Linked DNA regions of Homo sapiens: region 2 is linked to region 1. A link means that fine-mapping ties the variant in region 1 to the expression of a gene that starts in the linked region. Tissue or cell type: cerebellar hemisphere. Region 1 holds a variant in brackets; the other region holds the start of a gene. All regions are shown on one strand. Distances are between the middles of the regions.

Region 1 (5,268 bases):
TTCACAGAATTAGAAAAAAAACAATTCTAAAATTTATATGGAACCAAAAAAGAGCCCACATAGCCAAAGCAAGATTAAACAAAAAGAACAAATCTGGAGGCATCACACTACCTGATTTCAAACAATACTATAAGGCTATAGTCACCAAAACAGCATGGTACTGGTATAAAAATAGGCACATAGATTCATGGAACAGAATAGATAACCCAGAAATAAACCCAAATATTTACAGCCAACTCATCTTTGACAAAGCAAACAAAAACATAAAGTGGGGAAAGGATACCCTTTTCAACAAATGGTGCCTGTGACAATTGGCTAGCCACATGTAGAAGAATGAAACTGGATCCTCATCTCTCACCTTATGCAAAAATCAACTCTAGATGGATTAAGGACTTAAACCTAAGTCCTGAAACTATAAAAATTCTAGAACATAACATTGGAAAAACCCTCTAGACATTGGCTTATGCAAGGATTTCATGAACAAAAACCCAAAACCAAATGCAATAAAAACAAAGATAAATAGCTGGGATCTGATTAAACTAAAGAGCTTTTGCAAAGCAAAAGGAACAGCAGAGTAAATAGACAATCCATAGAGTGGGAGAAAATCTTTACAACCTATACATCTGACAAAGGACTAATATCCAGAATCTACAACGAACTCTAACCAGTAAGAAACTAACAAATCTAATCAGTAAGAAACGAAGAAACTAACCAACGAATCTAATCAGTAAGAAAACAACAAACAATCCTATCGACAAGGGGGCTAAGGACATGAATAGACAATTCTCAAAGGAAGACATACAAATGGTCAACAAGCATATTAAAAAATGCTCAACATCACTAATGATCAAGGAAATACAAATCAAAACTTCAATGTGATACCACCTCACTCCTGCAAGAATGGCCATAATTAAAAAATCAAAAAACCGTAGATGTTGGCATGGATGTGGTAAACAAGAAACTCTTCTACACTGCTAGTGGGAATGTAAACTAGTACAGCCACTATGGAAAACAGTGTGGCGATCCCTTAAAGAACTAAAAGTAGAACTACGATTTGATCCAGCAATCCCACTGCTGGGTATCTACCCAAAGGAAAAGAAGTCATTACTCAAAAAAGATACTTGCACACGCATGTTTATAGCAGCACAATTTACAATTGCAAAATCATGGAACCAAGCCAAATGCCCATCAATCAATGAGTGGTTAAAGATACTGTGATATATATAGTGTGTACATATGTATCGCAGTATATATATATCATAGTATAGAGAGAGTGTATATATATACCGCAGAGTATATATATATATATACCACAGAGTATATATATAGTGTGTATATATATATACTGCACAGCATATATATATACACTATATATAAACATTGTGTATATATACACACACAATGGAATACTACACAACCATAAAAAGGAATGAATTAACAGCATTTGCAGTGACCTGAATGAGATTAGAGACTATTATTCTAAGTGATGCAACTCAGAATTGGAAAGCCAAACATCGTATGTTCTCACTGACATGTGGGAGCTAAGCTGTGAGGATGCAAAGGCATAAGAATAATACAATGGACTTTGGGGACTTGGGAAGAGTAGAAGGAGGGCAAGGGATAAAAGACTACAAATCTGGTGCAGTGTATACTGCTCAGGTCATGGGTGCACCAAAATCTCACAAATCACCATTAAAGAACTTGCTCATGTAACCAGATACCACCTGTACCCCAATAACTTATGGAAAAATAAAATATTTTTTAAATTAAATTAAAAAATAAAAAACAAAATAAATAATAAAATCCAAAAAAGAGTACATTGTGACTGGGATGGAGAGTATGTGTGTTGCAGTGGGATATTGAAAGAAGAGAGAGAAAGCTGTTGAAAAAATACAAACCAAATCTGGAGAATTAGCACACATATTAGCACTAGAAACAATGATGATTTCATCAGGAGTTTTCCCTGAGTTAGAATTCAACACCTAATCAAAG[A/C]CATTCTGGTCAGAACTAAAGAGGGCAAACATCTTTTTCTCAAATTATAAATTGTCCTGACTGTGTAGCAAGCACAACTGGGATGCCAATGCAAGGGTTTCCTGCTCTGTCATGTCTAATATCAATAATCAGTTGTTCTCAGTCTCACCTTTTTTTCATTCTCCAAAAAGAGGGTCAATCTTATCACATACCACCTCCATCAAACCCTTGCCATTTTGTTGGCTGAATACCTGCACATCCTGTATGCCTATACTCAAATGGTACCATGCTAGACAGTCAATAGGATGACAGGCACCCACATTTCAAGAAATGTGATTAACTTATGGCAACAACAGTCAGAGATTATTCTTCCCACAAACCACTGAATGAGTCAGTCACACAAAATTTCTATTTGTACCAAGTATGTAATGTCACAAAAATTGCAAGCTTCATAATCTATACTTTTTTGTCAAGAATGGCCCTGTGCATTAGGTGCCTCAAATTCTACAAAATTAACACAAGTCACTGTGAGAGCTCAGTACACTTCTCAAAGCTACTCAGCCAATGCATGACAGATAAAGACTCAAAATCAGGTCTTCTGGCTTCAAGTCTCACAATCTTTTCTATTACTTCATTCCAGGAAATTGAATTCTAGTTACGAAGGCAAAACTAACAGGTAAGAAACAATCAAAAGCCCACCTATGCGATGGGTTTATAAGTTCAGTACAAGGGCTGGATCAGCATGGGCTGGAAGATTTAAAGGAAAATGTTTGGGAATACTTTTTTTCACATGAACTCTACATGGAAGTGTAAAACAAGTATATGAGCTGTTTTGATTGGAGCTAGGGTAGGATCCTCCCAGAGCCCCTTTCCCACTCTATGCAATGAACTCTCCTCAGTAACTTCTCAGCCACTAGGGCTCTACCGAGTAGTTTGGAAGCCAATGGACTAAATCAGTAGTTCTCAAAGTATAGTCCCTGGACTAGCAGTGTCAGCAATACCTGGTAACTTCTTAGAGATGTGAATTCTTTGAATCAGAAATTTTGGAGATGGGGCTTAATAAACTATATTTTAGCATGTTCCCCAGGTGATTCTCAGACTTGTAAAGTTTGAGAAATAGTGAACTACTTCATCTCCATAAAGTAGGAAGGGACGCCACCTGCTTTAAAAGAACATTTGAGATTGGGATTGGAAACTTTGAAGGGGGTAGGGAAGGTCTGGGACTGCCAATAGGAAGCCTTCTCTCAAATAGCAGAGATAGATGATAGGGATGAACGTCCTGACCAAGGCTAGAAGGTGTCAGTATGCACACCCAGTAATCCTGTCTTGCCCCTAAACTTCTCCTGCAATACCTAGAATAGGACAGAAGACAGTGGGCATTTGAGGTCATCTATACCTGGATAGAAAGTTTAAGGAAAAGAGGGGTCTAGGAGGCCACGTTGAAGTGACTGGCCAGGAAGGGACCGAAATCTTGATAGAGGAAATGAATAGGCTCAGTAATGTCAGAGAATGGGAGAAGTGGAATGAGGAGGCTTAACTAAGCCTATGGGGACGGAGAATCTCCATGTCTGAGATCTCAGTGCTGACAAAATCCTAAATTACATCAAAGTCCAAGATCTGGCTCTATTTCATATTTCCCTGTGGAATTTATGTTACTGAATAGACAAACTTGTATAAAAACAATTTCTATATGGTATAAAAACCCAGACAAAAGTTGCAGTTTTCTACATTCAAAAATATTTTTAATGTTTTTATTTTTATCTGTTTGTGAGAATTTGTAAGATTATTTTGTTTTGTTTTTCATATGAGATGGGGTCTCACTGTGTTGCCCAGTCCAGTCTTGAACTCCTGGCCTCAAGTGATCCTCCTGCCTCAGTCTCCCGAGTAGCTGGAATTACAGGTGCATGCCCCCACACTTGGATAATTTCTGTACTTTTTATGTGTTGGTGTAACATTGTCTTCGTCTTTTCTTGGAAAGGGCTATATGTTTATTGTTACTGTCTTTAAAATTGTGGTAAAATATGCATAACATAAAAATTAACTATTTTAACCATTTTTAAGTGTACAGTTCAGGTATACTTTTTTAGTGCCAAAAATGTCATTCTTCTATAAAATAACAAATATACTGTGATGGGGGAGGGGGTTGTTCTTACTAGAAAAATTAAGAAGTCGTTACTTATTTTGAGTCCCTAACTTGGTTTCGAAATATAACACGGGACTAAGAAATTCAGGAATCAAACAACTACTGCCCTAAAGGAGAGTTGAGATTTACAGGGTTAGGATGGTCAGGGGTGGAAAGTGGTAAGAACAAGCCAGTAGAAAGAGGAAGGTGCAGGGCATTTTTAGGAGTGTGCAGACCAGACTTGCTAAAAACAAAGTGCGCTTGAAAAGGAACAGTTAGAATTAAGTTTTGGTCCATTTTAAAATATTTAATACCTAATAATGTTTGGTTCATAGCAGAAACTCAATAAATATTTGTCAATTGAGTGTAGTGAAAGCTTGAGTGAGATTCAGAAGAGCCAGAAAATAAAGTTTAAATTTCATTTTATAGACCAGAGGTTCCCAAGAGATGTACCAAGAATGGGCAGCCAACGTGCTAAGCTATCGATCACCTTTCAAAGGAGTCAGGCAGAAGCCAGGGCATCTGGTCAACTCTAGGCCAGGTATGTTCTAGTATGCTGTACAAGTACAACTGTCTATAGATGTCATTGGTGGAAGACAATAGGAAGCAATGGGGAACCACTAAAGATAATTGAGCAGTGGAGATATAAGATGGCAGCAATATTTCCAGGAAGACTATTGCTGTGGTTTTAATGTTCATGTCCCCTACAAAATTCATATATTGAAATCCTAACCCTCAATGTGATGGTATTAGGAGGTAGAGCCTTTGGGGAGTAATTTGATCATAGGGCAGAGCCCTCATGAATGGGATTAGTGCCCTCATAAAACAGGCCCCAGAGAGGTAATTTGTCCCTTCTACCAAACAGTACACAGTGAGAAGGCACCATCTGTGAGAAAGTAGCCCTTCACCAAACACCACATCTGCTGGCACCTTGATCTTAGACTTGCCTCCAGAAGTCTGAGAAATAAATTTCTGTTGTTTATAAACTACCCAGCTTACAGTATTTTGTTATAGCAGCCCAAACAGACTAAGACATCTATTAACCTCGTGATAAAGCAAGAGCTGGATCCCAGGCTCAAAGCTGGAATCACTGGGACTCCCAAGGTATATATTATAGACATTTGAAAATTACTTCCCCAAATTTACTCTCCCTAACCCCACTTTTTAATAATACC
Region 2 (5,000 bases), 58 kb before region 1:
AAGGAGTGAAGTCAAGGGGGAATGAATGACCTCACCCAGAAAGGACAAGAACAAAGAGAGGTGAGGAAAGGACAGAGGACGAGGAACAAGGACAGAGCTCTAGAGGGCGCTCAACTTCAAAAGAAAGGTCAGTGAAGGATCCATTGAAATGAAATGCTGTGGCCCTCCCTCTGTGACCTTTTCCCCTAGGCATCTAGTACAGTGCCCGGCACTGGGTAGGTACTCAAACTCCAGTTGAGTAAATAAAAGGAGAGAGAAAAGCAAGGTAGCTTTAAAGTAAGGAAGGAACATGTTTCCAAAAACATAATGATCAATAATATTTAATATTTAATTAGAATTTATTAATATTTGAAATATATAATGTTGCTAGGAGGTTACTATTTTTTAATATCTTTTCATGAGAGATTCTAAAAATAAATACTTGTTTCTAATTCTTACTCATGCTATACAAGAATTTAGATTACACACATTAAGTTTTGTTTTTTATTTTTTATTTATTTATTTTTTTGTGGAGACAGAGTCTCGCTCTGTCACCCAGGCTGGAGTGTAGTGGCCTGATCTCGGCTCACTGCAACCTCCACCACACGGTTCAGGCGATTCTCCTGCCTCAGCCTCCTGAGTAGTTGAGATTACAGGAGCCCACCACCATGCCTGGTAAATTTTTGTATTTTTAGTAGAGAGGGCGTTTCATCATGTTGGCCAGGGTAGTCTCGAACTCCTGACCTCAAGTAATCCACTTGCCTCAGCCTCCCAAAGTGCTGGGATTACAGGCATGAGCCACTGCATCTGGCCAAACATACATTAAGTTTAATTTCAATGACAGCTACAATTTCCAATTTACTTTTAGATGGTTAGTTAACTCTTTTCCTACTAAATGAAAATATTCAATATGCCACATATGAAAAAAATAAAATTCTCCCACCCACAAAAAAATCCTCCAGGGGCACAAAAAAAATCATTTGTTCCCTCATTTTTAAATATTTCTGCATGATGAGACAATATAAAGGCACAATATAGGTTAAAATAAATCACTCTGTGGTTTCTCAAAAAAAGTGAAAACAGATCCACCATATGATCCAGCAATCCCACTTCTGGGAATACATCCAAAAGAAAGGAAATAAGTACCTTGAAGAGATATCTGTACTCCCCTGTTTATTGCAGCACTATTCACAATAGCCAAGATATGGAAGCAATAATATTTCTTCTTGAGGAATAAAATTTTTAAATGTGGTATTTATATACAATGGAATATTATTCAGCCATGAAAAAGAATAAAACTCTATCATTTGCAGCAACATGGATGGAACTGGAGGATATTATGTTAAGCAAAATAAGCCAGGCACAGAAAGACAAATATCACATATCCTCTGTCATATGTGGGAGCTAAAAAAGTTGATCTCATGAAGGTAGAGAGGGAGAATGGTGGTTACCAGAGGTTAGGAAGGGGAAGAGGAAGAAGGGGGTGAAGGTAGGCTGGTTAATGGGTACAAACATACAGTCAGATAGAAGGAACAGGTTCTAGTATTTGATAACACGGTAGTATGACAATAGATAATGATAATTTATTTTTTATTTATAATAAACGATATAGATATAAACGATAAAATAAACGATATAGATAATGATAATTTATTGTATCTCAAAATAGCTAGCAGATTTGGAATGTTCCCAACACAAAGAAATGGTAAATGTTTGAGGTGATATATATGCTAATTACACATCGTATGCATATACCAAAATATCACATGTACCCCATAAATATGTGCAGTTATTACATATCACATAAAAAATAAAAAATACATTTAAAAAAATCAAAACTGAAATCACTCTGAGTTTACATTTTGTAGTAAAGGCCAGCATGGAGCAACAGCTGAGTAAAAGGGGATACTTCATGGGCACAGGTGTTGGTAATCCCACAAGAAAACCTGTGTTTCCTCATTTACTTTCTAACAAGACTTCAGCTTCCAATTAATGTTTTTCACCAGTTTTCTTTTCTTCAAAACAGCTAATTGTTAACCAGGGACCTGAGACACTCTCTTGCCTATAAACAAAACAACTAGAAGGATACCTTTTTCTGTTCAGACAAATTTTAGCACTAAAAACATAACCCTCAAACCTCAGAGGGATAGCTCAGTGCAAACTGTTCATGTCTAAAGCATAAATTGACCATAAACAATATATTGAATAGGTGCACTGTATACAAACCCCGTGAAAAAAATAAAACCAACTACTACCAAAGGAAGTGACAAAGACCTACAAACCAAGAAGAAATGTACCTTTATGCTACTATCATTGGTCATTTAATAGGCATGCTAACAGAGTAAAAAATAGACATTTCAAACAACAAAAAAGAAAATGTCACATCTCCCATTTCCAACTAACTCCCCCAAATTTATTTTTTAGCAAAAGGGGAATAATAAAGAATATTTGTGAAACCTTAGTCACCAAGATGAAAACAGCAAAACAAAATAGGGATCTGGAGAAAAGAAACAGATCGTTCCAACCAGCCCACAGCTAAATTTCCACTTCATCTCACTAACCATTGAATGCTACCCATCTACTCACCTCAACCCAGACTTAATCCTCTCCCCCAAAAGGAAGATTTCTCAGCAGTGCAGGAAGATCAAACAGGTATCCATTCCGTGACCATGCCAAGGAGAAAAGCAAGGCTACTCTGAAAGCTTGAGGGATGATACAGAAAACAAACTGGGTCTCTAGGGGGCATTCTCAAAAACCTGAGATCAACTCCTGGAAAAACACTCTTGACCACTTACCACCACCGGAAGCTGCTAGATGGCAATCAGAATCAGCATCTCATCAGAAGAAGAGGAAGACCTTACAAGAAAGCAGCTTCACTGTCAGTGAGGAATTGAGGGAGAAAAGCACTCCTTGGAAAAATGCTGAAAGCCCTGAAGAGCCTCTCCTCCCCTAGTTGCCTGCTCCTGCTGACAGGACAGAACTGGTTAATCTTGGGGAAACAAAAGGAAACTCCCAAGAGGCTGGCTTCTGAGGATGGCTTCCTCTGTGGGAATCAAGAATTCAGGAGGATGAAAATGAACAATGGAAGGGGACACCGGCTACCAGGCCTACTTACCAAACTTTTACCAGCCCTTGACTGAGGAAGATAAGCAAATCTGTTTGCAGTTCCCACCTGCTTTTGCAGAGATGAAAGAATCAGCAGTGGGTTTTTGTCACTTTTTTTTTTTTTTTTTTTTTTTTTTTACAGGGGAAGTTCAGCTCTCTTATGGATGAAAGCTAAGCATACTCAAGTGACATTTAGTAGGCAAAGCAATGACACTTCTTTCCCAACATCCTTAATTTCAGCACAGAGGATGCAAACATTAACCCTGATGGTACCAAAGAACAAATGCACATAGGAAATGGATTTACATCTTTTAGTTTGGAATTGCTTTTAAGGGGATTCTGGTTGTTAAAGCGGGATTAGATGAAAATAAAATATTTTGGTGCATATCTATTTTTAAAAGGAAAAATATGGCTTCTTTTAAATATGCCTAAAGCCATCTAGGAATTTTCCAGAAGTTGCATCAGATTTGCCAGTTAAGTACTGAAATCAAATAGATTTTAATCATGTCTCTATAACCAGAGCAAGCTAATCCCCTGCGCACCATCAACTCCACTCTCCTGGAACATCCTCACGCTGGGCCCTCAGGTTTTCACAGAAACAAGGGCCTTTTCCTACCAAGGTTCCACAGTAACAAGAAACTACAGATTTCTGGAAATAAGAGAGATGGCTTTCTTTCTTACATGATAAAAGAGGACCAAGAACAGCTTAGAGCAGGAAGCAATCATCTCTTTAAAATATTTAAAATAAAAAACACTTTTAAGTGAAAAACATTTTTAAGTATCACCTCTATACCATTTTTAAACCTATCATATGGGGCAAATATAAGTTTGGTAATTCCCTTTGTTAAAGAAGATATAAGGAAATCAGGGCCTTTTCCTTTTCCTATACTGTTAGTGGGAATATAAATTGGTAAAATATTTTTTAAAGGAAACTGAGTATAGTAGTGCCTATCAAGTATTGAAATGTGTATGTGTTTTTATTTCTTAGGAATTTACCTTATAGAAAACCACACACACGTGCAAACATATCTCTAAATATGTTAATTATAGCACTATGATAGCAACAACAAAAAAACACCTAAAAATGGCTTACATATAAGAGACTGCCTAAATAAGTTAAGGTATATTGATACAAAAGAGTACTATGTAGCCATTCAAAAGAGGGTAGAATTGGAGTAAGGAATCAGGTCATCTGAGTTTAGTTCTGTCTCCACCAGTGACTGGCCAGGTGACTATGCAAGCTCCTACACTTATCTGGGCCATCTGTAAAAAGATGATCATTATAGAACTTACCTCATAGGATTGTTGCAACTAAAACAGTGCCTGGAGCAAAGTAGAGACTCAATAAATTTAGCTATTATAAATAAGAGATAGGCCTCTTCAGACTGACATAGAAAAAGATGTCCAAGATGTACTGTCAAGTGAAAAGATCAAGTTGCAGAAGAATTGTGTATAAGATAATCTCATTTTTAAAAAATATTTTAAATGTGCTCGCTGTTTATTGTCTCCCTCCCACTAAAATAAAAGCTCCTTGAGAGCAGGGACTTTTGTTTACTGTTGAACTCCTGGTGTCCATAATAAGCACTCATGAATAATGAATAATGTCGAATGAATAATGATAACAGCAAGGCTCAGCAAGAAGAATAGGTGAATTCACAGAGACAGAAAGAGTAGAGGCTACCAAGGGCTGCAGGAAGAGAGTATGGGAAGGTATTGTTTAATGGGTACAGGGTTTCAGATTGGGATGATGGAAAAGTCCTGGAGATGGATAATGGTGATAGTTATACAACACTGTGAATGTACTTAAAGCCACTGAACTGTACACTTAAAGGTAGTTAAAATGATAAATGTCATGTTATGTATACCTAGCACAACTTTTTCAAAAATTTCTACTTTTTCTTCATAAGGAGTAGAAA

Evidence for each region. PIP is the estimated chance that this variant, and not a neighbour inherited with it, causes the effect.
Region 2: it holds the start of ATP8B4, and the variant in region 1 is fine-mapped to the expression of ATP8B4 in cerebellar hemisphere (GTEx, PIP above 0.99). The same link has a PIP of 0.9 or more in cerebellum.

Annotation. Positions count from the first base shown.
Region 1 is chr15:50,174,770-50,180,037 of GRCh38, forward strand. It overlaps a transcript of ATP8B4 not described here. Among named protein-coding and RNA genes, the nearest start is that of SLC27A2, 4.8 kb to the right of the region's middle. The variant A/C (reference allele first, on the strand shown) is at 1,993.
Region 2 is chr15:50,116,558-50,121,557 of GRCh38, forward strand. ATP8B4 (ATPase phospholipid transporting 8B4 (putative)) reads right to left here and starts at 2,676. Exons shown (of 28, transcript NM_024837.4): 1 at 2,566-2,676. RefSeq lists an enhancer at 1-393.